3 separate regions of the Homo sapiens genome follow, and regions 2 and 3 are each linked to region 1. The links come from fine-mapping of genetic effects on gene expression. A gene starts in region 1. Each other region holds a variant in brackets. All regions are shown on one strand. Distances are from middle to middle.

Region 1 (8,177 bases):
AAGATACCCACCTTTGGTGTGTGATGCGCCATCCCCAGGGAATACATAGGCATCCTCCAGTTTGGTGATATCAAACAGACAAATGCAGAGTCCCACGTTGTACACGACCTGCATGCATACAAACACAGACACACAAGTACACATGGATACAGAGTGACCACAGGCCCAGCTCCCAGGCAATCTGAGCCCCTCACAACCACAAGCAAGCCATGATTATCTCCTTTTTTAGGTGAAAATGAGTTTGTGGAGGGGACCAGGGTAAGGAACCTCAGAAGGATGCAGAGCTCTGGAAGGAGCAGGGCCTCGGGTGACAAAACAGGTCCAGGTTCCAAGGCCAGCTCCACCACCCACTGTGTGACTGCCAAGAGGGTCACTTCACCTCTCTGAGCCTCGGTCTCCCCATCTGCAAATGTGAAATACCAGGCTGCAGAGTTATAAAATAAAGAGAGATAACAGATGTGAAGCCCCTAGCCTTGTACCTGGCTCGTGTATTGGAAACCATCATCATCAAGGATCTTTGTTATTACTAGTGAGGACCAGTGACAGGAATGCTGCCTAAACGTGCACTCTCCGACATCCCAAAGCCAATGCCAGAGCTCACAGTTTAGTGAGCGTCACAGCCACAGCTAAACCCCACTGTGCTCACAACATCTCAGACACACAGACGCAGCCACAGGGACTGCAGCTGGCAGAGGGACACAAGACCTAGGCCCCAAGAATGTGCAGAAATCCCATGCCCTCACCCCACACCACTGTGGTTCAAACGACTGGCTACTCAGTGTCTCCTTATCTGCCACCGTGTCATCACCCCCACTTAGAACCCTTGCAAGAACTGTCCAAGAATTAGCAAGAAGCTCAGAGAACTCAGAGTCGTGGCCAGACCTCACCAAGATAATGCCACAAGATCTGTGCCCTTTGTCAGACCATGGATTTCTGTGTGGGCCCCCTCTCAAACGATTCATCTAATCAAATACTAGAAGACTTGTCCCAACAGGACCTCTACCCCAAAGGGACTATATTCCCTTCTTGGACTTTCCACACCTTCTCTCTCAAGGTCCACACCTCCATCCCCCAACAGACCCTCATCTTCAACCTCACAAAGTAACCAGAAGCCATCCACTTAAAGACTCCATGAGTTCCCTTCACTATCTAGCAACCCCCAAATCAACCTCACCTCTTCTGAAGGGACCTGTCTCATGCGTAAAGCCAGCTAAGCATCCTCTTTCTGGCTCCTTCTCAGCCCATCACCTTCTGATGCTCCACGGATAAAGACCAATACCTCAACTCCGACATCCTACAGGGCTGTGTGGCCTGGCCCCCACCCACCTGTCCAGCCCACCCTCCCCTCTGCCCAAGCCACACCAGCCTCTTCCACACCATGGTGGGTATTTTACCCCTTCTTCTTTTTTTTTTGAAGCGAAGTTTCACTCTTGTCACCCAGGCTGGAAGGCAGTGGTGCGATTTCAGCTCACTGCAACCTCTGCCTCCTGGGTTCAAGTGATTCTTCTCCCTCTGCCTCCCAAGTAGCCGGGATTACAGGTGCCTGCCACCATGCCCAGCTATTTTTTGTATTTTTAGTAGACATGGGGCTTCACCATGTTGGACAGGCTGGTCTCAAACTCCTGACCTTGGGTGATCCACCCGCCTCAGCCTCCCAAAGTGGTGGGATTACAGGTGTGAGCCCCCACGCCCGGCCTGTATTCCTTCTTCACAGGGCCTTTGCACATGCCAGTTCCTGCCTTCAGGGCTCTTCTCTCCACCCAGCCCCCTCCCACCCTAGAAAGGAATCCTCTGGTTGGCTCCACTTCACCATCAGATCTCACCTTCAACCCCACCTCCTCAACAAAGCTGCAGGTCCCCTCATTCCAGGGGACGTTCCTTTGTTCCACAGGTGTGTGAACACCTGTCCCTCATAACATTTACCTCAATTTGTCACCAAACACTCAACTGTGGACCCTTCTCATTCATATCTGCTTTCCCACCACACTATAGCACAGAGCCTTGTCTCTGTTTCATTCATTCAGTCAACAAATGGCCGGGCACGGTGGCTCACACCTGTAATTCCAGCACTTTGGGAGGCTGAGGCAGGCAGATCACCTGAGGTCAGAAGTTTGAGACCAGCCTGGCCAACATGGTGAAACCCCGTCTCTACTAAAAGTACAAAAATTAGCCAGGTGTGGTGGCAGGTGCCTGTAATCCCAGCTACTCAGGAGGCTGAAGCAGAAGAATAGCTTGAACCTGGGAGGTGGAGGTTGCAGTGAGCCAAGATCGCTTCATTGCACCCCAGCCTGGGCGACAAGAGCGGCACTCTTGTCTCACACACACAAACACAAAACAGAAAATTATGGGACATCTACTCCCGCCAGGCTTTGGCTAAATGAGGGGATACTTCAGGGAAGAAGGCAGATAAGGTCCCTGCTCTCAAGGAGAGGGAAAGGAAAAAGTCTAAGAAGGAAAGAGAGTGATGTGACACAGAATACCTGGAAAGGGAGGACTGTCAAAGAAACGGCAGTGGGAAGACCTCTCAGCTGGTACTAAGGCACACAGGCACAGCACAGAGAAGGCGCACAAATATTGGCTGCTGGAATGAAGGGATGAACCTCCTGACAGTTAATTCTGTACTACTAGAACTCTCCATCTTCACGAAAACAATGCATTGACCCGAGGCGATGGCGCACACCTGTAATCCCAGCACTTTGGGAGGCCGAGGCGGGGGGATCAAGAGATCGAGACCATCCTGGCCAAAATGGTGAAACCCCGTCTCTACGAAAAATACAAAAATTAGCTGGGGGTGGTGGCGCGCGCCTGTAGTTGTCCCAGCTACTCGGGAGGCTGGGGCAGGAGAATCGCTTGAACCCGGGAGGCGGAGGTTGCAGTGAGCCGAGATCGCGCCACTGCACTCCAGCCTGGACGAAAGAGCAAGACTCCGTCTCAAAAACAAAAAACAAAACAAAACAAAACAAACAACAACAACAACAAAAACAATGCATGGCTGGAAGGACAGCAATATTTTATCCCCATTTTAAAAATGGAAACTGAGGCCCAGAAGGGGTCAGTAACTTGCCTGCAATTGCAAAGTAATTTAGAATTGTGGAATCTAACACTTCCAGTTACAACTCCCTTTTTCAAGCCCATTTTCTTTTGATCCCCTTCAATATCTCCTTTCACGGTGAAGAAAAGTTCTGAGACATTAAGCTGCTTGCCCACGGCCAGGGCTTGGCATGACCGAGGCCGGGCCTGCGGCCAGTGGGCGGCGCTCGCTCTCCCACGCCAAGGCCTGCCCGCGAGCCGTGGGCCCAGTACCTTGTTGGCCAACTTCTTGTTCAGCTCCTCGGCAATGGAGTCGTTGAGCTTCCTCTCAAACTGCCAAGGGGGGATCCGGACGGTGTCCACCATTTCCACCAGGACGAACATCCCGGCCTGCGCTGGGGGCTCTGGGAACAGGAGGGTCAGTCACGCACCAGGGCCGGGGGCAGGGAGAATCCCCGAGCCCCTTGGTCCCGTCCCAGTCGCTGAGGCCCCCAGGCTGGCGGTGAGGTTGCACGGGGCGGTCTCGGGGGCCCGGTCCGGGCCATGCTCCGCTACTACAACATGAGGAAACTGAGGCCAGAGGGAGGCACTCTCCGTCCACAGCTCCGGGTGCGCGCCCGCGCCGCGAGACCCCGCCACGCCACGCCACTCCACGCCACGCCACTCCACGCCCCGCACCCGCGCCACGTGCCGCCGCTCGTATCACGCACCACGCACCACGCACCGCGCACAGCCGCTCGCGCTTGCGCGACTGCGGGCGAGATTCCGAATCCATCGCTTCCGGAAAACTCACCAATAAGAAACCTCTGTCCACCCCCACCCCGCCGAGGCGGGGCGGGGCTGCCTGTGTGCTCGCGCACAGCGTGGGGCAGAGAGAGGGCGAGGAGAGGGCGGGGCCTCCTCCTTTCACAGGAGCAGAGCGGTTCCCCCGCCCCCGACAGCGCTTTCTGTTGCTAGGCGACCTCCGTGCAATCCCGCCTGATTATCCCTCGCCTGGCCTGTGCTTTACCCGCATTGCTGTCCTCTGCTCGGCAGCCAGAGTGATCCTTTGGAAACGCAAACATATATTACCACATCTAAGTTAAAAAAAAAACCCACCGCAAACATAACATGCTTAGCACCCTTAAGTGTTCCGGAGACAAGGAGAATTAGCAGGAAAGGGGCACTTGGGACTGTTCTGAGATGATGGAAATGTTCTGTATTTTGTTTTCGGTGGTATAACATTGACGTATATAATTGTCCAAACTAATTGAACTCGGCAAGATTTTTGCATTTATTTGTAGACATTATGTTCCAATTGAAAAGTTATAATAAATTGGAACAAAAAACACAACCCATTGAACTTAGAATACTAGATCCAAGCCGGGCGTGGTGGTGTACACCCGTAGTCCCACCTACTCAGAAGCCTGAGACAGCAGCATCGCTTGAGTCCAGGAGTTTGAGGTTGCAGTTTGAGGTTGCATGCTGCACTCTAGCATGGGTGACAGTGACACCTCATGTCTAAACGAAAAAGAAGAAGAAGGAGAGGCGGAAGAAGAAGAAAGAAGAAGGAGAAGAAGAAGAAGAAAGAAGAAAGAAAAGGGAAAGAAGAAAGAAAAGAAGAAAGAAAGAAGAAAAGTCCAAAACCTTTATGGTAGTTCACACGGCCCTGCAAGATCTGACCATACCCCCCTCCTATAGCCCCATCATGCTCTGTCTCGCTGACATTCCAGTCTCATTCATCTTCACGTGATAGCATGGGCTAAGAGAATTTGGTAGCTTACCCAAGATCACGTGTTGACAAGTGGTAGAGGTGGGCCCAGTCTGAACCTCACTACCCTGCCTCTAAAAATTGGTGGGGTGTAGATGTATACTGTAGTGGGTTTTTTTGTTTGTTTGTTTGTTTGAGACGGAGGATCGCTCTGTCGCCCAGGCTGGAGTGCAGTGGCGCGATCTTGGCTCACTGCAAGCTCCGCCTCTCGGGTTCACGCCATTCTCCTGCCTTAGCCTCCCGAGTAGCTGAGACTACAGGCGCCCACCATCACGCCTGGCTAATTTTTCGTATTTTTTTTTAGTAGAGACGAGGTTTCACCGTGTTAGCCAGGATGGTCTCGATCTCCTGACCTCATGATCTGCCCACCTCAGCCTTCCAAAGTGCTGGGATTACAGGTGTGAGCCACCGCGCCCGGGCTTGTAGTGTGTTTTAACCAAAATAACAATTTAGGTACTTACAAAAGATACTTGGGGTAAATGACAGAGGCACTTGGAAATGTATGGTGCCTTAATTTGCTGATTTCACAAGCATAGTGATCTCTCAGTGACACTGGCTGCAGTGATGCTAAATGTGGCCTTCCCTGCATCTATGATTTTATTTTTAGGTGTGCTTCTATAGGATTTGAGGTACTTGAGGACAGCAGCAAATGCTACTTCAGCTCTTTATTCCCACAATCCCCTAACACATTCCTAGGAAGCATTGAGTAAAGGTGTTTAGGGATTACCATTAATTCTTCCTCTCAAATGTTTCCTCTTCATTCCACTCCCACTGCTATTGCTTCGGTTCAGGCCTTTTCTTTTTTTTTTCTTTTGAGACGGAATCTTGCTCTGTCGCCCAGACTGGAGTGCAGTGGCATGATCTCAGCTCAATGCAACCTCCACCTCCTGGGTTCAAGCGATTCTCCTGCCTCAGCTTCCCAAATAGCTGGAATTACAGGTGCCCACCACCACACTTAGCTAACTTTTGTATTTTTAGATAAGATTTCACCATGTTGGCCAGGCTGGTTTCGAACTCCTGACCTCAGGTGATCCCCCCCATCTTGGCCTCTCAAAGTGCTGAGATTACAGGCATGAGCCACCGTGACTAGCCAATATCTGGTCATTTAAAAGTATGTGGCGGGGCCAGGCGTGGTGGTTCACACCTGTAATCCCATCACTTTGGGAGGCCGAGGTGGGTGGATCACAAGGTCAGGAGATTGAGACTATCCTGGCTAACACGGTGAAACTCTGTCTCTACTAAAAATACAAAAAAAAAAAAAAAAAAAAAAAAGTAGCCGGGCGTGGTGGCACGCGCCTGTGGTCCCAGCTACTTGGGAGGCTGAGGCAGAAGAATCACTTGAACCCGGGAGGCAGAGGTTGCAGTGAGCTGAGATCACACCACTGCACTCCAGCCTGGCGACAAAGTGAGACTCCGTCTCAAAAAAAAAAAGTGTGTGGTGGCCAGGCGTGTGGCTCATGCCTGTAATCCCAGCACTTTGGGAGGCCAAGGTGGGCGGATCACCTGAGGTCAGGAGTTCAAGACCAGCCTGACCAACATGGAGAAACCCCGTCTCTACTAAATACAAAATTAGCCGGGCGTGGTGGCGCATGCCTGTAATCCCAGCTACTCAGGAAGGCTGAGGCAGAAGAATCGCTTGAACCCAGGAGGTGGCGGTTCTGGTGAGCAGAGATCGCGCTATTGTACTCCAGCTTCGGCAACAAGAGCAAAACTCCATCTTGAAAAAAAAAGTGTGTAGCACCTCCCTCCTCCCACTCTCTCTCTTGCTCCTCTTTTCCCCATGTGATGTGCCTGCTCCTCCTTTGATTTCCGATATCATGGGAAGCTTCCCGAGGCATCCCTGGAAGCTGAGCCTATGCCAGTACCATGCTTGCTGTAAAGCCTGTGGAACCATGAGCCAACTAAACCTATTTTTTTTTTTTTGAGACGGATTCTTGCTCTGTCGCCCAGGCTGGAGTGCAGTGGCATGATCTCGGCTCACTGCAAGCTCCACCTCCCGGGTTCATGCCATTCTCCTGCCTCAGCCTCCCAAGTAGCTAGGACTACAGGCACCCGCTACCACGCCCAGCTAGTTTTTTGTATTTTTAGTAGAGATGAGGTTTCACCGTGTTAGTCAGGATGGCCTCGATCTCCTCACCTCATGATCCACCCGCCTTGGGCTCCCAAAGTGCTGGGATTACAGGCGTGAGCCACCGTGCCCAGCCAGCCTATTTTCTTTATAAATTAACCAGCTCTGTTGCCCAGGCTGGAGTGCAGTGGCGCTATCAGGGCTCACTGCAACCTCCACCTCCCCATTTCAAGCGATTCTTCTGCCTCAGCCTCCAGACTAGCTGGGATTACAGGCGTGCACCACCACACCTGGATAATTTTGGTACTTTCAGTAGAGACAAGGTTTTGCCATGTTGGCCAGGCTGGTCTGAAACTCTTGACCTCAAGTGATCCTCAGCTTCGGCCTCCCAAAGTGCTGGGATTACAGGCATGAGCCACCACTACCAGCCAGGTATTTCTTTTTTCTTTCTTTTTTTTTTTGTGCGTGTCACCCAGGTTGGAGTGCAGAGGTGCCATCTCAGCTCACCGCAACCTCCGCCTCCTGAGTTCAAGCGATTCTCCTGCCTCAGCCTCCTGAGTGGCTGAGAGTATAGGCACATGCCACCACGACTGGCTAATTTTTGTAGTTTTAGTAGACACGGGGTTTCACCATGTTGACCAGGCTTGTCTCAAACTCATGACCTCAGGTGATCTGCCTGCCTCGGCCTCCCAAAGTGCTGGGATTACAGGCGTGAGCCACCACGCCAGGCCCAGGTATTTCTTTATAGCAACGTGAGAACAGCCCAAAACAGAACCCACATGTGATGCTGTTCTCATTCATTCGTGCATTCATTCAACATACTGTTGTGTACAGTTGTTGGAGATGCAATGCAGAAGAAAAACTGGGCCTCAAACCGAGCTTCAACTCAGAGCACTTGGTGCTGGAGTTGGGGGGCAGCAGGGTGGGCACTGAGAGAAAGAGCGAGTTTGTACTCTCAGGTAATTAAAAGTATTTGGAGCCAGGCACAGTGGCTCATGCCTATAATCCCAACATTTTGGGAGGCCGAGGCAGGAGGATTGCTTAAGGTCAGTTTGAGACCAGCCTGGGTAACAAAGTGAGATACTGTCTCTACTAAAAAAATAAAATAATTAGCTGGGTGTGATGGCACTTGCCTGTAGTCCTAGCTACTTGGGAGGCTTAGTTGGGAGGATTGCTTGAGCCCAGGAATTTGAGGCTTCAGTGAGCTTTGATCATGCCACTGCCCTCCAGCCTGGGTGACAGAGCAAGACTCTGTCTCTGAAATAAATAATAATATTCGGGCTGATTTACATGGGAGATGACAACTGGTAAGCTAAGAGGTTAGAGACC
Region 2 (8,177 bases), 150 kb before region 1:
GAGCTCAGGAGTTCGAGACCAGCCTGGCCAACATAGTAAAACCCCATCTCTACTAAAAATACAAAAAATAGCTGGGCATGGTGGTGCGTACCTGTAATCCCAGCTACTCGGGAGTCTGAGGCACAAGAATCGCTTGAACCCAGGAGGTGGAGGTTGCAGCGAGCCGAAATTGGGTCACTGCACTCCAGCCTGGGCGACGAGCAAAATACTGTCTCAAAATAATAAAAACTAAAATAAAATTAAATAATGAATTAACCCTATGACCGCTTAAGGTCTCAGAGTATGTGGTAAGCCTTCTGGGAAGGCCAGGCATGGATGAGGATGGGATGCCGTGTCTAAAGGAAAACAGCCGGCCTGGTTCAAGTGCGAGATTCGAACTGGAGAATAGAGTAGGTTCTTGAAATGCATGGGTTGGAATCGGGGCTCTGAGAAAGATGGGCCAGGCCTGTGAGGCTCACTGCCCACTTCCTGGGATTGAGTTACTCTCCTGTGTGGTATTTCATCGCAGATTTTGTTTCTGCAGATAAGGAAAAGGGGAAGGAAAAGCTGGAGGAGGACGAGGCCGCAGCCGCCAGCACCATGGCTGTCTCAGCCTCCCTCATGCCACCCATCTGGGACAAGACCATCCCATATGATGGCGAATCTTTCCACCTGGAGTACATGGACCTGGATGAGTTCCTGCTGGAGAATGGCATCCCCGCCAGCCCCACCCACCTGGCCCACAACCTGCTGCTGCCTGTAGCAGAGCTAGAAGGGAAGGAGTCTGCCAGCTCTTCCACAGCATCCCCACCATCCTCCTCCACTGCCATCTTTCAGCCCTCTGAAACCGTGTCCAGCACAGGTTGGTGAAAGGCCATCGAGGAGGGCCACCTGTCCCATCCAGGGAAGTCCATTTCCCACTGAGGGCTGCTTGTGTCCATGTACCCAGTGAGTCCCTTCTCTGAGGGGAGGTCCTGGTGGGGCTGCAGTGTGGAGAAACTCTTCACTCCCCACCCTTCCACACAGTTCCCCGAGGCTGGAGATAAAAATAGTGGTCATGTCACTGGCAGTTGGAACCCTTCTGTTGGTTGCTGTGCTGCAAACAGTCAGGACAGGACCTTCCAGGCCACGGCATTACAGGATAGAAATCCCATTCTGCATTTCCTCAATGCTGCTCTTTTTTTTTTTTTTTTTTTTTTTTTTTTTTTTGAGAAGGAGTCTCGCTCTGTTGCCCAGGCTGGAGTGCAGTGGAGCAATCTCGGCTCACTGCCACCTCCACCTCCTGGGTTCAATCAATTCTCTGCCTCAGCCTCCTGAGTAGCTGGGATTACAGGCACCAGCCACCACGCCTGGCTAATTTTTTTATTTTTTAGTAGAGACAGAGTTTCATCATGTTGGCCAGGCTGGTCTCGAACTCCTAACCTCTGGTGATCTGCCCGCCTCAGCCTCCCAAAGTGCTGGGATTACAGGCGTAAGCTACCACGCACAGCCTTAATTTTTGTATTTTTAGTAGAGACGGGGTTTTGCCATATTTGTCAGGCTGGTCTTGGCTCACTGCAACCTCCATCTCCCGGATTGAAGCGATTTTTATTTTTAGTAGAGATGGGGTTTTGCCATATTTGTCAGGCTGGTCTTGAACTCCTGACCTCAGGTGATCGACCTACGTTGGCCTCCCAAAGTGGGGAATGCTTTCTTTGTGCCAGGGCATAAGCACTATTCAAGTGCTACCTCCATTACCTACTAGCCTGGGCAACAGAGTGAGACGCCATCTCAAAAAAAAAAAAAAAAGAAAGCATTCCCACCACCTGGCCAGGACAAACATCATCTTCAGAGTCTGTCCTTATTCCTCCTCCTTTTACATTTTATCTCTGGGGGTTTGTTTTCATGCTCCTTGGACACGAACCTACCAAAGGAGACATGGCTCCTGTTGCAGGGGTTCTGCAAAGCTTTCTGCAGTCTCTGAGGCATACAGGCTGATAGCTCCTGCCAGTCGGTATGTCACCCCAGGAATCCACACCCAATAAGTTCTCATACTCTATTTTTTTTTCTTTTTATTGTGGAAATTTTTTCAAACAAAATACAAAAGTAAGAGACGACTATAATGAACCTCTATGTAACCGTCACCCAGCTTCAACAATTCTCAACTCAGAAGCAGTTATTTTCAATCAAATTATAAGTATTTCAATATGTATCTAAAATATAAGGGTTCTTTTAAAAAAAACATAACGAAAATACTAGTTTTACATCTAAAGTTGACAATAAATCCATCAACATTCAGATTTCCAAAGTTGTCTCATAAATGGTATTTTACAGGCCGGGCGCAGTGGCTCACGTCTGTAATCCCAGCACTTTGGGAGGCCGAGGTGGGTGGATCACGAGGTCAGGAGATTGAGACCATCCTGGTTAACACGGTGAAACCCCATCTCTACTAAAAAGTACAAAAAATTAGCCGGGTGTGGTGGCGGGTGCCTATAGTGCCAACTACTCGGGAGGCTGAGGCAGGAGAATGGCGTGAACCCAGGAGGCAGAGCTTGCAGTGAACCGAGATTGCACCACTGCACTCCAGCCTGGGCGACAGAGCAAGACTCCATCTCAAAGAAAAAAAAAGATCGAGACCATCCTGGCCAACATGGTGAAACCTCGACTCTACTAAAAATACAAAAATTAGCTGGGCATGGTGGTGCGTGTCTGTAATCCCAGCTACTTGGAGGCTGAGGCAGGAAAATCGCTTGAACCCGGGAGGCGGAGGTTGCAGTGAGCCGAGATGGCGCCACTGCACTCCAGCCTGGTGACAGAGCAAGACTCCATCTCAAAATAAATAAATAAAAGTTTTTTTTTTTTTTCTGTAGAGTCAGGGTATCACTGTGTTGCCCTGGCTGGTTTCAAATTCATGGCCTCAAACAGTCCTCCCACCTGGGCCTCCCGAAGTGTTGGTTGAAATTACAGGCATGAGCCACTACACCCAGCCGCTTTGTTAAGTTTCATTGCTGAATAGTAGTCAATTGTACTAACGTACCACAGCTTATCCATTTAACCGTTGAAGGACATTCTGATTTTGGTTATGAATAATGCTGCCATGAACATTCATGTGCATGTCTTTTTTTTTTTTTGAGACGGAGTCTTGCTTTTGTCGCCCAGGCTGGAGTGCAGTGGCGGGGTCTCAGCTCACTGCAACCTCCGCCTCCTGGGTTTAAGCGATTCTCCTGCCTCAGCCTCCCAGGTAGCTGGTATTACAGGTGTGCGCCACCACTCCTGGCTTATTTTTGTAGAGATGGGGTTTTGCCATGTTGGCCAGGTTGGTCTCAAACTCCTGACCTCAGGTGATCCACCTGCCTCACCTTCCAAAGTTCTGGGATTACAAGTGTGAGCCACTGTGCCTGGCCCATCTACATGTTTTTTGGTAAATATATATATGCGTTTCTTTTGGGCATTTGCTTAGGAAGAGAATGGCTAGGTCATTGGACATGCATATGTTCAGTTTGTGTAGACCCTGCCAAATAGCGTACAAAGTTGTTATATCCATTTGTACTCACACCAGCAGGGCATTGGAGTTCCATTGTCAGCCTTTGATTTTGACATCTTTTGTAATGGTGGACCTATGAGAGAATTATATTTCAGGCAAGTTACCAACAGATCTATTCCCTTTCCCTCTTCTTCCAGCAAAGTCATTTTAAGGTCTCATTGTCATCTTTTTTTTTTTTTTTTTTTTTTTTTGAGATGGAGTCTCACTCTGTCACCCAGACTGGAGTGCAGTGGTGCGATCTCGGCTCCCGCAACCTCCGCCTCGCAGGTTCAAGTTCTCCTGCCTCAGCCTCCTGAGTAGCTGGGAATACAGGCGCCCACCACCACACCTGGCTAATTTTTGTATTTTCAGTAGAGACAGGGTTTCACCGTGTTGGCCAGGCTGGTCTTGAACTCCTCACCTCAGGTGATCCACCTGCCTCGGAAAGTGCTGGGATTACAGG[CG/C]TGAGCCACTGCGCTCAGCCCTCATTGTCATTTTCTAGAATTTGTTCATAGAGGTATCCATGGGGAAATGAGAATTCCTCAAAATCTTGTCCCCAGGCCTCTTTGCAAATTTTCCCCTTTTGTTTCCTGCGGCTTTCTCTTATCCTGTCCCTGAAACTTAACCACATCTTGCCACTTGGTTGTTGCTGAAGGGCACCCAGGCATGGCGTCACTTTGAACAACATTCTCATGTGGTAGGTACCTGAGCTGCTTGTCTTGCAGGTACTAGGTTTGGCATGCCCGAAACTGCCTACAGTTACCATGTGGGTCCCTGGTCATTCACTCCTCTGACACTCAGATGTCTCTGTAATTAACCCCTGTCTAATAGGATACAATGAATTTATGTGCATAATCCAATTAAAGCCTAAGTCTGATCATGCCACACCTCTGCCCAGAGCCCTCCAGGTGTTCTATCTCAGGATAAAAGTCAGAATCAGCAGCACCATTGACATTTAGACCAGATGATTTTTTGTTGGGGTTGGAGGCGTGACTGACCTATGCATTGCAGGATCTTCTTTTCTTTTTTTTTTTTTTAAGACAGTCTTATTCTGTCACCCAGGCTGGAGTGCAGTGGTGTGATCTCAGCTCGCTGCGACCTCTGCCTCCCGGGTTCAAGCGAGTCTCCTGCCTCAGCCCCCTGAGTAGCTGGGATAACAGGCACGGCCGGCTACTTTTTGTATTTTTAGTAGAGACGGGGTTTCATCGTATTGGTCAGGCTGGTCTCGAACTCCTGACCTCAGGTGATCCACCCACCTCAGCCTCTCAAAGTGCCGGGATTACAGGCATGAGCCACCACACCAGGCCGGCATCTGACTTTTTTTTTTTTTTTTGAGAGGGAGTCTCACTCTGTCGCCAGGCTGGAGTGCAGTGGCACCATCTTGGCTCACTGCAATCTCTGCCTACTGGGTTTAAGCAATTCTCCTGCCTCAGTCTCCTGAGTAGCTGGGACTACAGGCGCATGCCATCACGCCCAGCTAATTTTCGTATTTTTAGTAGAGACGGGGTTTCACCATGTTGGCCAGGATGGTCTCGATCTCTTGACCTCGTGATCCACACGCCTCGGCCTCCCAGAGTGCTGAGATTACAGGTGTGCACCACCACGCCTGGCCCATCTGACATTTTTATATATCGTTTGTATTTATCTTGTGTAATGCAGCTTTCCCCACTAGAATAACATTTCATGCAGGCAGGGATTTTTAGCTGTTTGTTAACTGTTTTGTCTTTGCCAGGACAGAACCTGGCATATAACAGGTATTCAATAAGTATCTGTTGACTGAATAATTATTTTGTATACTCCTATCAGTAGCATTGAATGAGCTGGCCAAAGGTATAGTTTTTCTTAATATAACTCTTATCTCTAATAACACACAACCTTAGAATTCTAGAGGTGGTTTTAACCCAATCGGTGTCCACTATTAAATGGCAGCCAGGTGGGGCAGGGAAGAACAAGGAATCAGCCAGCCAGACTAAGTTTCAAATTTTAGTTCAATTGCTTATCATCTGTGTGACTCTGGGAAAACCATTTTATTTCTCTGAGCGTTAGTTTCTTCATCTGTAAACTAGTTGTCATAAGACTAAATGGGGCCGGGCGCAGTGGCTCACACCTGTAATCCCAGCACTTTGGGAGGCCGAGGCAGGTGGATCACCAAGTCAGGAGATTGAGACCATCCTGGCCAACATAGTGAAACCCCGTCTCTACTAAAAATACAAAAATTAGCCGAGCATGGTAGTGGGCGCCAGTAGTCCCAGCTACTTGGGAGGCTGAGGCAGGAGAATAGCTTGAACCCAGGAGGTCAAGGTTGCAGTGAGCTGAGATCACGCCACTACACTCCACCCTGGGAAACAGAGTGAGACTCTTCAAAAAAAAAAAAAAAAAAAAAAAAGACTAAGTGACTAGATGGCACAGTAACAGACATGTCTCAGGGACTCAAAAGTGGAACCCGGGCTGGACGTGGTGGCTCACACCTGTAATCCCAGCATTTTGGGAGGCCGAGGCGGGTGGATCACTTGAGCTCAGCAGTTCAAGACCAGCCTGGCCAACATGGTGAAACCCTGTCTCTACTAAAAATACAAAAACTAGCCAGGCGTGGTGGCTTATGCCTGTTGTCTCCACTACTCGGGAGGCTGAGTCGGGAATCGGTTGAACCCGGGAAGTGGAGGCTGCAGTGAGCCAAGATTGCACCAGTGCACTCTACCCTGAGTGACAGAGCAAGACTCAGTCTCAAAAGAAAAAGAAAAGTGGAGCCTGGCCAGGTGCAGTGGCTCACACCTGTAATCCCAGCACTTTCAGAGGCTGAAGCAGGAAGATCACTTGAGCCTAGGAGTTTGAGACCAGCCCTGGCAACATAATGAAACCCTGTCTCTAAAAAATAAAAAAAAATTAGCCAGGCGTGTTGGTGTGCATCCGCGGTCCCAGCTACTCAGGAGGCTGAGGCAAGAGGATCACTCCAGCCCAGAAGGTCGAGGGTGCAGTGAGCCATGATCATACCACTATACTCCAGCCTAGGTGACAGAGCAAGACCCTGTCTCAAAAAAAAAAAAAAAAAATTGGAACCCATTTCCATTCTTCAGTCTGTGTCTGCCTGGAGAGACACAGCTGTTTCTCATTACTGGAGATCTTGAAATCACAGGAAGTTAAGGGAATATAAAAATTTAATGTTTTAGGCTGGGCGCAGTGGCTCATGCCTGTAATCCCAGCACTTTGGGAGGCCAAGGCAGGCGGATCACAAGGTCAGGAGATCAAGACCATCCTGGCTAACACAGTAAAACCTCATCTCTACTAAAAATACAAAAAAATTAGCCAGGCTTGGTGGCGGGCACCTGCGGTGGCAGGCGCCTGTAGTCCCAGCTACTCAGGAGGCTGAGGCAGGAGAGTGGCATGAACCCGGGAGGCGGAGCTTGCAATGAGCCGAGATTGCGCCACTGCACTCCAGCCTGGGCGACAGAGCAAGACTCCCATCTCAAAAAAAAAAAAAAAAAAAAATTAATGTTTTGCTTAACATTTCTGGAGGGGGTGGAAACAATTGGAAAACCCTGTCTTTTTCTAGGGCTTCTGTTTCCTTTTGAGCATTCTGTTCCTGAAGGAAAGAATTCTTTGAATGTTTGTGTTGTGGAATTGAACCGTGTGCCAGTCTGGCTTAGGGGCTGGTACTGTTGGGGTTTTCTTCTCCCCAGGCGGCAGTGGCTTATGCAGCCTTGAGGTTCAACCAGGTGTCTGGGTGTGTGGCGTGGGTCTTCTCTGTCCAGTGGGCTGCTTCGGGACCACCTGTCTCTGTGTCTTTTAGAATCTTCCCTGGAGAAGGAGAGGGAGACTCCCAGTCCCATCGACCCCAATTGTGTGGAAGTGGATGTGAACTTCAATCCGGACCCCGCCGACCTGGTGCTCTCCAGTGTGCCAGGCGGGGAGCTCTTCAACCCTCGGAAGCACAAGTTTGCTGAGGAGGACCTGAAGCCCCAGCCTATGATCAAAAAGGCCAAGAAGGTCTTTGTCCCCGACGAGCAGAAGGTAACCTGGTATTCCTTATAAATAAAGATGCAGCGTTGGTTCAAGGGCCTAGGGGATATGGCTCCTCGCATTTGATTTTATCTGGAGAGCCTTCCCTCCTTGTGACACCATTTGGAAAGACATGAGTTTAGTGCTTAAAGCCATATCCTTCAGCAGTTTGGTAGAAAGAAAGGGAGTCATGTGGCATTTGGCCCCAGTGTGACTCCCTGTAGTTTCTCTCCTTCCCCGGGCCATCGGCTGTGTTGATGTTCCTGCCTCCCTGGCTGTAGCCCAGCCACTGGGCAAGAGCTCACTAGGCCACAGGAACTGGGGTTGAAAAAGTCCTTGCTTTGAAGGACAAAGGGTTTCTTGTATGTTGCCATCCCCAGGGATGAGCAAGCAGCTTTCAAGCTGGTGGTGCTGTTAGGAACTGGTGGGAAGAGAGAATTTTGCAGTTTTCCATCCTTTCCTATGAAAAACTTACAGCAAGGATTTTTCATCCAAATCTTTGGAGTCAGGCACACCTGGGTCCAAACTCCATGTTGCCACTTGTGGCCTAGCTGTGCCTCAAGTTCCTCATCTGTAAAACGGGAGCAACTGAACCTCCCTCCCGGGGAGGTTTGTGAGACTTTAATAATGATGTGATGATCATGGTGAATATTTAGATGGTACTCACTGTAGGCCAGGCACTGATTTTTGTTTTGTTTGT
Region 3 (8,177 bases), 180 kb before region 1:
AGCTGGGTTCCAGGACCCACCTCTGCCCTTTCTGGAGGTGGCTCTTGCAGGAAGGCAGGGACCATGCCTCGCCTATGATGCCCAGTGTGATCCCGACTGCAACCCTGGCTTCTGTGAACCCAAGGGAGACTGAAGTCACATGGGTCCAGTTTCCTCATCTTTAAAAGGAGCTGGCGGGGGGGCTGGGCACAGTGGCTCACACCTGTAATCCCAGCACTTTGGGAGGCCGAGGTGGGCGGATCAGCTGAAGTCAGGAGTTTGAGACCAGCCTGGCCAACATGGTGAAAACCCGTCTCTACTAAAAATACAAAAATTAACTGGGCATGGTGGCACATGCCTGTAATCCCAGCTACTTGGGAGGTTGAGGCAGGAGAATCGCTTGAACTCGGGAGGCGGAGGTTGCAGTGAGCTGAGATCGGTCCACTGCACTCCAGCCTGAGTGACAGAGCGAGACTCTGTCTCAAAAATAAATAAATAAAAGGAGCTGATATATTAGATCTGGAGTTCTCAGGGACTCAGTCTGCTGGGGTGGGAGGTACTTTGTCAAATCTTTTGGATTGTGCATGGCTGCAGGTGATAGAGGGGGTCCCATAGGGAGGGACTGCTCATGTCCAAGAGCAAGCTCTCACCAGACAGCTTTTTTTTCTTTTTCTCCTTTTTTTTTTTGAGACAGAGTCTCACTCTGTCACCCAGGCTGGAGTGCAGTGGCACGATCTCGGTTCACTGAAACCTTCACCTCCCAGGCTAAACTGATTCTCCTGCGTCAGCCTCTTCAGTAGCTGGGACTACAGGCACCCACCACCATGCCTGGCTAATTTTTGTATTTTTGGTAGAGCCAGGGTTTCACCATGTTGGCCAGGCTGGTCTCGAACTCCTGACCTCAAGTGATCCACCCGCCGCCTTGGCCTCCCAAAGTGCTGGGATTACAGGCATGAGCCACCACCATGCCCGGCTTCCCAGACAGCTTTAAACTGCAGTGTGGAGTGGACCAGGACAGCGGTTCAGGACCAGAGAATTGCCTGAAGACGGAGTCATTTGGGCCAGGTGTGCAGTAGACGCTCAGATGCTTGATAAATGATGGCACGAGGAACAAAAGCAGCCAGCTTTATTGAGCATCTTGGTTGCAGCAGGTACTGTGCAGCTAGTACATCCGTCCCTCACAGCAACCGTGGAAGTTCACTGTCCACATTTATAGCCCAGAGAGTTTCAGTGAAGGTTCCAAGGACCCTCAGGAAGGAGGCAGAAAAAAGATCGAGAACCACTGGGAACTGGGTATCGGCAAACGTCCCTTCCGCCCTGACATTCTGGAATTCACAGCACCTCTGGATGCACTGTGAAAAACCGAAGTGGCGTGGCAAGGCAGAGTTCCCGGAAGAAAAATACAGACTCATGCTTAGGCTGGAGAGATCGCGTGCCTGCATCAAGACCTTACAGGATTACTCCTGTAATCCTGCCTTGGGAGATCAAGGCAGGAGGATCACTTGAGGCCAGGAGCTTGAGACTAGCCTGAGCAACAGTAAAGCCGTATCTCTACAAAAAAAAAAAAAAAAAGTAAAATTAGCTGGGTATGGTGGTCCACACCTGTGGTCCTAGCTACTTGGGAGGCTGAGGTGGAAGGTTGGCTTGAGCCCAGGAGGTTGAGGCTGCAGTGAGTCATGATCACACCACCGCACTCCAGCCTGGGAGACAGAGCAAGATCCTGTCTCAAAAAAATAAAAATAAATAATAAAGGAACAATTAAAGAGTAAGACAAGCAGAGGCCGGGCTCAGTGGCTCACTCCTGTAATCCCAGCACTTTGGGAGGCAGAGGAGGGTGGATCACGAGGTCAGGAGTTCGAGACCAGCTTGGCCAACATAGTGAAACCCCCGTCTCTACTAAAAATACAAAAATTAGCCGGGTGTGGTGGCACACGCCTGTAGTCCCAGCTACTTGGGAGGCTGAGGTGCAAGAACCACTTGAACCCGGGAGGCAGAGGTTGCAGTGAGCTGAGACCATGCCATTGCACTCCAGCCTGGGTGACAGAGTGAGATTCTGTCTCAAAAAAAAAAAAAAAAATACAAGCAGGACTTCAATCAACCTAGTGGAATAAACTTGTACATTCTCATCAATTCCCTTAAATTCTCTTCTGGTCCTCACGTGGCTCAGATTGGTAAACATCAACTGAGCACCCACTCTATCCCAGATCCAGGGATACAGGATTACTTAAGAAACTGCTTCCCCTTCAGTTCAGTCAGTGCTAAAGGAGACCGACGTAATAGAAGATTGTAGAATGATGTGATGGGGGTGACGGGGGGAGACACTCAGGGAACCAGGGGAGGTACCTCATCCAGGCTCAGCAGCCAGGGAGGACTTCCTGGAGGAGGTGAAACTGGAATTGAAGCTTCAAAAAGATTCATCATTGTAATCCATGTCACTTACTGTTCTGCATCTTTCTCTCTTAATTTTTATTTCACATGTGCAGTTCCATGTACCCGTGTCACCTGGATATTTATGGTCAGTAGCTGATATTCATCCTATTGATGAGTCAGAGCTCGCTTAAGCAGCTTCCAGTTACTGAACGCAGCCCTGTGTCTGGTCTTCAGCCCTGTGAGTAGGGGCCTCAGTGAGCACGACCAACACAGCGCACCAGCTGCCTCAGCTCTACACCTCTAGAGAAAGCCCTTGACAGTTCTGCAAATAATTGCATCCGTCTATCCCCACACCTGGGAGCCCTTTGCAACCTCCCTGGGAAACAACCCCCAGTCCTCAGAAAAACGCAGCTGGAGCCACTGGACCTGCTCAATTGATGATCAGTAAGATTATGCCAGCCTCTTCTGGCACCTTCGTTTCGGGCCTAGAAGTAAATATATATGCGCTGCTGCTCAAGGAGAGGACGAGGCACAGGGAACGTGTTTTGTTGTTTTGTTTTGTTTTTTGTTTTTTTTTTTTTGAGACGGAGTCTTGCTCTTGTGCCCAGGCTAGAGTGCAGTGGCGTGATCTCAGCTCGCTGCAAGCTCTGCCTCCCGGGTTCACGCCATTCTCCTGCCTCAGCCTCCCAAATAGCTGGGATTACAGGTGCATGCCACCATACTAAGCTAATTTTTGTGTTTTTGGTAGAGACAGGGTTTCACCATGTTGGCCAGGCTGGTCAAGAATTCCTGACCTCAGGTGACCCACCCACCTTGGCCTCCCAAAGTGCTGGGATTACAGGAGTGAGCCACCGTGCCTGGCTGAGAACGTATTCTTGATAAAGTTCTCCCTCAGCCCGGCCTCTCAGCTGCACAAGGCGTTAGATGTTCTTAGGGAGCCACTGTGACTCTGACTCCAGACTTCTGTCTGGGATTACAGCTCCCCTGCAAGGAGACATAGCTGTAGGCACAAAGAACACCATGTTCCGGCTGGGCACGGTGGCTCACGCCTGTAATCCCAGCACTCCGGGAGGCCGAGGCGGGTGGATCATGAGGTCAGGAGATTGAGACCATCCTGGTTAACATAGTGAAGACCCCGTCTCTACTAAAAATACAAAAAATTAGCCGGGCCTGGTGGCGGGCACCTGTAGTCCCAGCTACTCGGGAGGCTGAGGCAGGAGAATGGCGTGAACCTGGGAGGCGGAGCTTGCAGTGAGCCAAGATCACGCCACTGCACTCCATCCAGCCTGGGTGACAAAGCGAGACTCCATCTCAAAAAAAAAAAAAAAAAAAAAAAAACCATGTTCCTAGTGAACTGGGGGTAAATACAGTTGATGAAAACTCAAGCGCAGGGCATAGGAATGGGCTCAGTGGCATTGATAAGGACACCAACAGACCTCAGACCATCTGCAGTGGACATCAGATCCCTGAGCTACGAAGTCCAAGAAGTGCAGACAATTCCAGCACTCCCAGCATACGGCCCCCGTCCGAAGGTCTCTAGGTATGTATACGGCCTTCCCTTCCCACTACCTCTGGCCTCCCTGGCTGCCTGGCCCAGCAACCCACTGGTGTGGTCCCTGTCTGACCTAGGGGATGCTGCCAGCTGGACACTGAGTGCCGACTGGGGGCTGCCAACATGGACTCCTGGTGGTGTGAAAGTTCTCTAAGGATAGGGAGTTGCCTGGCTGGGTATGTTAACTTTGAATTCCTCACAGGGTTTAGGCTGGTGCCAGGTATGTGATAAGCACTCATTCATAGTCTCAGAGGCTTAGGACATTCGCACATTAAAATGAACCTGCAGAGGCCAGGCACGGTGGCTCACACCTGTAATCCCAGTACTTTCGGAGGCTGAGGCAGGTGGATCACCTGAAGTCAGGAGTTTGAGACCAGCCTGACCAACACGGAGAAACCCCGTCCCTATTAAAAATACAAAATTAGCTGGGCACAGTGGTGCATGCCTGTAATCCCAGCTACTCGGGAGGCTGAGGCAGGAGAATTGCTTGAACCTGGGAGGCAGAGGTTGCGGTGAACCGAGATCACGCCATTGTGCTCTAGCCTGGGCAACAAGAGCAAAACTCCGCCTCAAAAAAAAAAAAAAAAAAAAAAAAAAGGAGCCTGCAGAGAGCTCACCGGAATGAATTTCCAAGAGAAAAACGTCTTGCAGCAGGTGGGTATGTTTGAGAAACACAGGGTGCTTCCTGTTCCTTTTGAGATCATACCGATGGACACCTGCCCACTCCACCTTTGTGATAAGCGGTCTTGCACTCAAGAGAATTCTTGGACCGAGGAATGGTGAATGCGGCAGCCCAGCCTGAGTCCACCCCTGACTGCAAATCACAGGTCAGCTGGGGGCCTGCGCACCAGGCTCACTCTCACCCTTACCCTCACCCCCGGGGTTGCAGAGCAAAGGGCACTGGCCAGGGTTCTGGCTGGAAACAGCAGTAAGGGGGTCTCTCCTTTGTAGTTACAAAACACTCTCTGCTGGTCAAAACATACAACTCTGCAAAATTAAATGT[TTGTGTG/T]TGTGTGTGTGTGTCATAAATATATACATATATATGTTTACTTTTGCAAAAAGAAACATTGGGGAATGGGAAAGAGGGACAGGGATAGAAAGGACATTTCTAAAGTATACTTCCTTGAGGCTGGGCACAGTGCCTCACACCTGTAATCCCAGCACTTTGGGAGGGTGAGGAGGGCGGATCACCTGAGGTCAGGAGTTTGAGACCAGCCTGGCCAATGATGCGAAACCCTGCCTCTACTAATAATACAAAAATCAGCTGGGCGTAATGGTGTGTGCCTGTAATTCCAGCTACTTAGGAGGCTGAGGCAGGAGCCTGGTAGGCAGAGGTTGCAGTGAGCTGAGATCCTGCTACTGTACTGCAGCCCGGGCAACAGAATGAAACTATGTCTCTAAATAAACAAATAAATAAACAAACCTTATCGGAGGTTTTGAGCTGTGAGCCACGTATTGTTTTTTGTATTCAAAAGTTAAAATTAATTTTTAATTAATTTGGGAAAGAGCATAATTTGGGGAGGGTCATTAGGGAGGGAAGGAGGGTAATTAAGAGTATAAGCTGAGGTCATTGGGAAAGGAAGAAGCCAGAAGGGGCTCTTGGAGTATTTTTGATTCTGTACAAAATGGAATTTTGGAAAACAACAAAGCACTGCTTAGAAACCAGCTACAGGCCAGGGGCAGTGTTCACACCCATAATCCCAAGACTTTGGGGAGGCCAAGACCGGGGGATGGCTTGAACACAGGACTTGAGACCAGCTTGGGCAACAGTGTCTTTATAAAAAAAAAGTCCAGTGTGGCGGCATGCACCTATGGTCCCAGCTACTTGTAAGGATGAGGCAGTGAGCCGTGATCCCACCACTGCACTTCAGCCTGAGCAACAAAGACCCTGTTTCAAAAAAAAAAAAAAAAATCAGCTACCACGCAGAAAACCAAATGTTTATTGCAGCCCATCTGGAGCTTCAGAGCCATAGAACTAGAGCTGAACGGCACCTTAGAGGTCACTGCATTCGGTGGTTCGGGAACTGAGACCCAGAGTTGCTGCCACGCTTGCTCAAGATCCCACAGCAATGTACGGCAGAATCGAGAACCTGGCATCCCCCGGCAAGTCTGGCTTTGACGTGATGTTGGTCTGACGTAGAGGTTGACATCCAGAACCTTTGCTTCACCCATTCAAGTAACCCAAGGACCACAGGGGCCAGCGTCCTGGTGGGAGGGTATGAGAGGGAACTACAGCAAATAGCCAATTGGCACTTTAAGTCCCCACAATGACTGGGAAGCAGGGATTCCTCATCCAGGACAAGCCTGAAGCAGGCTGGCAGAGCTGCCCCCCTTTCAGTGGTGCCTGGTCTCCTGGCACCTGCCCCTTTTCCCCTCTCCCCTGAAGACCAAAGAACCTGAGGCGGTAGGTTTTATCACTTCCTTTTGGGGAACAGGCTTCAGGCTGTGCAGATGGTATAAAGCTCCAATTATGCATGCCATATGTACACTGGCGTGCCTTGTAGGGTACGTGTGCATGGCATAAACACAGCATCAAAACATGCCACAAGCCCTTGAGGCTCAGAAGCGCACAGGTGAAGGCATGATGTCCGACCGCATCCCTGCATCTGCCAACACAGGGTGTCTTGTGCTCGGCTGCCTGAGGTGCTGTCCTTGCCTGTCATCCTCCTTTTCTCTTGGAGCCTCAGGTCCCAGCCCGGGATGGTTTCCACTGCGTGCCTGGGCCTCCAGGGCACCTCCATGCTGATGCGTGCTTGCTGTGGGCGTGGAGCTTACCATTCTCACCTGGCAGCCCCAGTTATGGCTCCCAGCCTGGGGGAGAACTTCCCTTTCCAAAGTTAGATAACAGGCTGGGCTCTCTGTCAGAGGATTGGCGCGACAGCTCCACGTGCTGCAGCTGGCGCAGGGCCAGGCCCGCCCTGCCAAGCAGCGGGAAGGGAAGGCCTGGCTGCAGCCGGAGCTGGCAGGTGGCCGAGCCGGGGGTGGACGGGCGGGCTGGGACTGGTGCTGGCCATTGGCTGCCTCAAGGCTCCCACCCCGCCTGCCTCCCTAGCCTGCGGCTGGCGGCCCCTGCCTCTCCAGCTGCCTCTGAACTCCCTGGAGCAAGCACCTCCTGCTGGGCTGTGTGAGCTGCGACTGGTTCTCAGTGGCCCCTGCCATGGACATGCCTGAGGTCCTCAAGTCCCTGCTGGAGCACTCTCTGCCTTGGCCAGAGAAGAGAACAGGTAGGAGCACAGGTGACCTGCATTGATTGGCTGCCCAGGTACTCGAGGGGGCGAGGGGGCAGCCACAGGCACAGTGGCAGGACAGGCATCTCCAAGCCAGGGAGGGTCTCAGCAGTGGTGCGCCCTTGGTCTCAGGGTGCAGAGTGCGGAGAGGGGTTCGAGGAGGCATGTGTCACACCGGCTCTGGGACTCTCTCCTAGGCCTGCTGGATTTGGGGAAGCCATGGCCAGTGTGTGGCCACTGACAGGTGCTGTGCTCATGTGGGACCAGGACAGGACAGGGGGTCCTATTGAAAGAATCTGGCTGGATGCTGACTGCTTTTGAAGCTCCCTCCCCCTGTACGCTGGGGGTGGCAGAGGAGCGGCAGGGACTGTGGATTTGGGCAGCAGGAGCCTGGGTCTGAAGCAGAGGCTTTCCTTGGTGCGCCTGCTGCAGCTCCCGCTTGCCGGAGGGCTGAACTCATGGATGGGATGGAAACTGTTATGTAACAGGACCACAAGGCTCGAAGCCCTGCGTTCCTAGGATACCACAGGCAAAACGCGCGAGGGAGGAGAGAGGAGGGCGTGGACTGAGGGGCAGACCTGGTGGCCAGCACCAGGTGTCTCCCAAGTCCTGCCTGGGAACCCCATGGCCAGATTAGTTTGGCGGAGAATACTGATAAATCTCTCTCCAAATCTCTTCTGTTCCCAGAAGTCAGAGGTCACCCCCAGGTCCCCAGGGCTCCAACTCCTCCTTGCCTTTAGAGGGGCCCAGCTGGCTTTTGCTGCCTGAGTCTGACTTGAGCACCTGGGGTGTCCTCTCAGGGGACCTTTCTCAGGCCTCCCTCTCATCCTGCTGTGCCAGCACCTGCTACCTAGCATCACCAGGTGGCCCTGGTTGTCCCCGCAGGACTCCTTCCTTCCACAGGACGCTCTCAGCCCACTCCCAAACCAGAGCCAGGAGACAGATCCCACAGCCCCCGGCCTCCCTTCACCCCTCTGGAACTGGGTGTGGGTTTGCTTGGGCTAAGCCAGGAAAGGAGGGTCAGCAGGTTCTAGCCCCAGGGAGACATT

What was found.
Region 2: its variant is fine-mapped to the expression of POLR3H in whole blood (TOPMed, PIP above 0.99).
Region 3: its variant is fine-mapped to the expression of POLR3H in whole blood (INTERVAL, PIP 0.92).

Annotation. Positions count from the first base shown.
Region 1 is chr22:41,540,688-41,548,864 of GRCh38, forward strand. POLR3H (RNA polymerase III subunit H) reads right to left here and starts at 3,783. Exons shown (of 6, transcript NM_001018050.4): 1 at 3,304-3,783; 2 at 12-108. The coding sequence starts at 3,414. RefSeq lists enhancers at 3,144-3,981, 3,304-3,403, 3,414-3,503 and silencers at 3,554-3,683, 3,874-3,973.
Region 2 is chr22:41,386,828-41,395,004 of GRCh38, forward strand. TEF (TEF transcription factor, PAR bZIP family member) reads left to right here. Exons shown (of 4, transcript NM_003216.4): 2 at 524-841; 3 at 7,269-7,489. Among named protein-coding and RNA genes, the nearest start is that of TEF, 9.0 kb to the left of the region's middle. The variant CG/C (reference allele first, on the strand shown) is at 3,945.
Region 3 is chr22:41,360,475-41,368,651 of GRCh38, forward strand. It overlaps a transcript of TEF not described here. Among named protein-coding and RNA genes, the nearest start is that of TEF, 17 kb to the right of the region's middle. RefSeq lists enhancers at 1-44, 45-567, 3,531-4,091 and a silencer at 6,910-6,969. The variant TTGTGTG/T (reference allele first, on the strand shown) is at 4,905.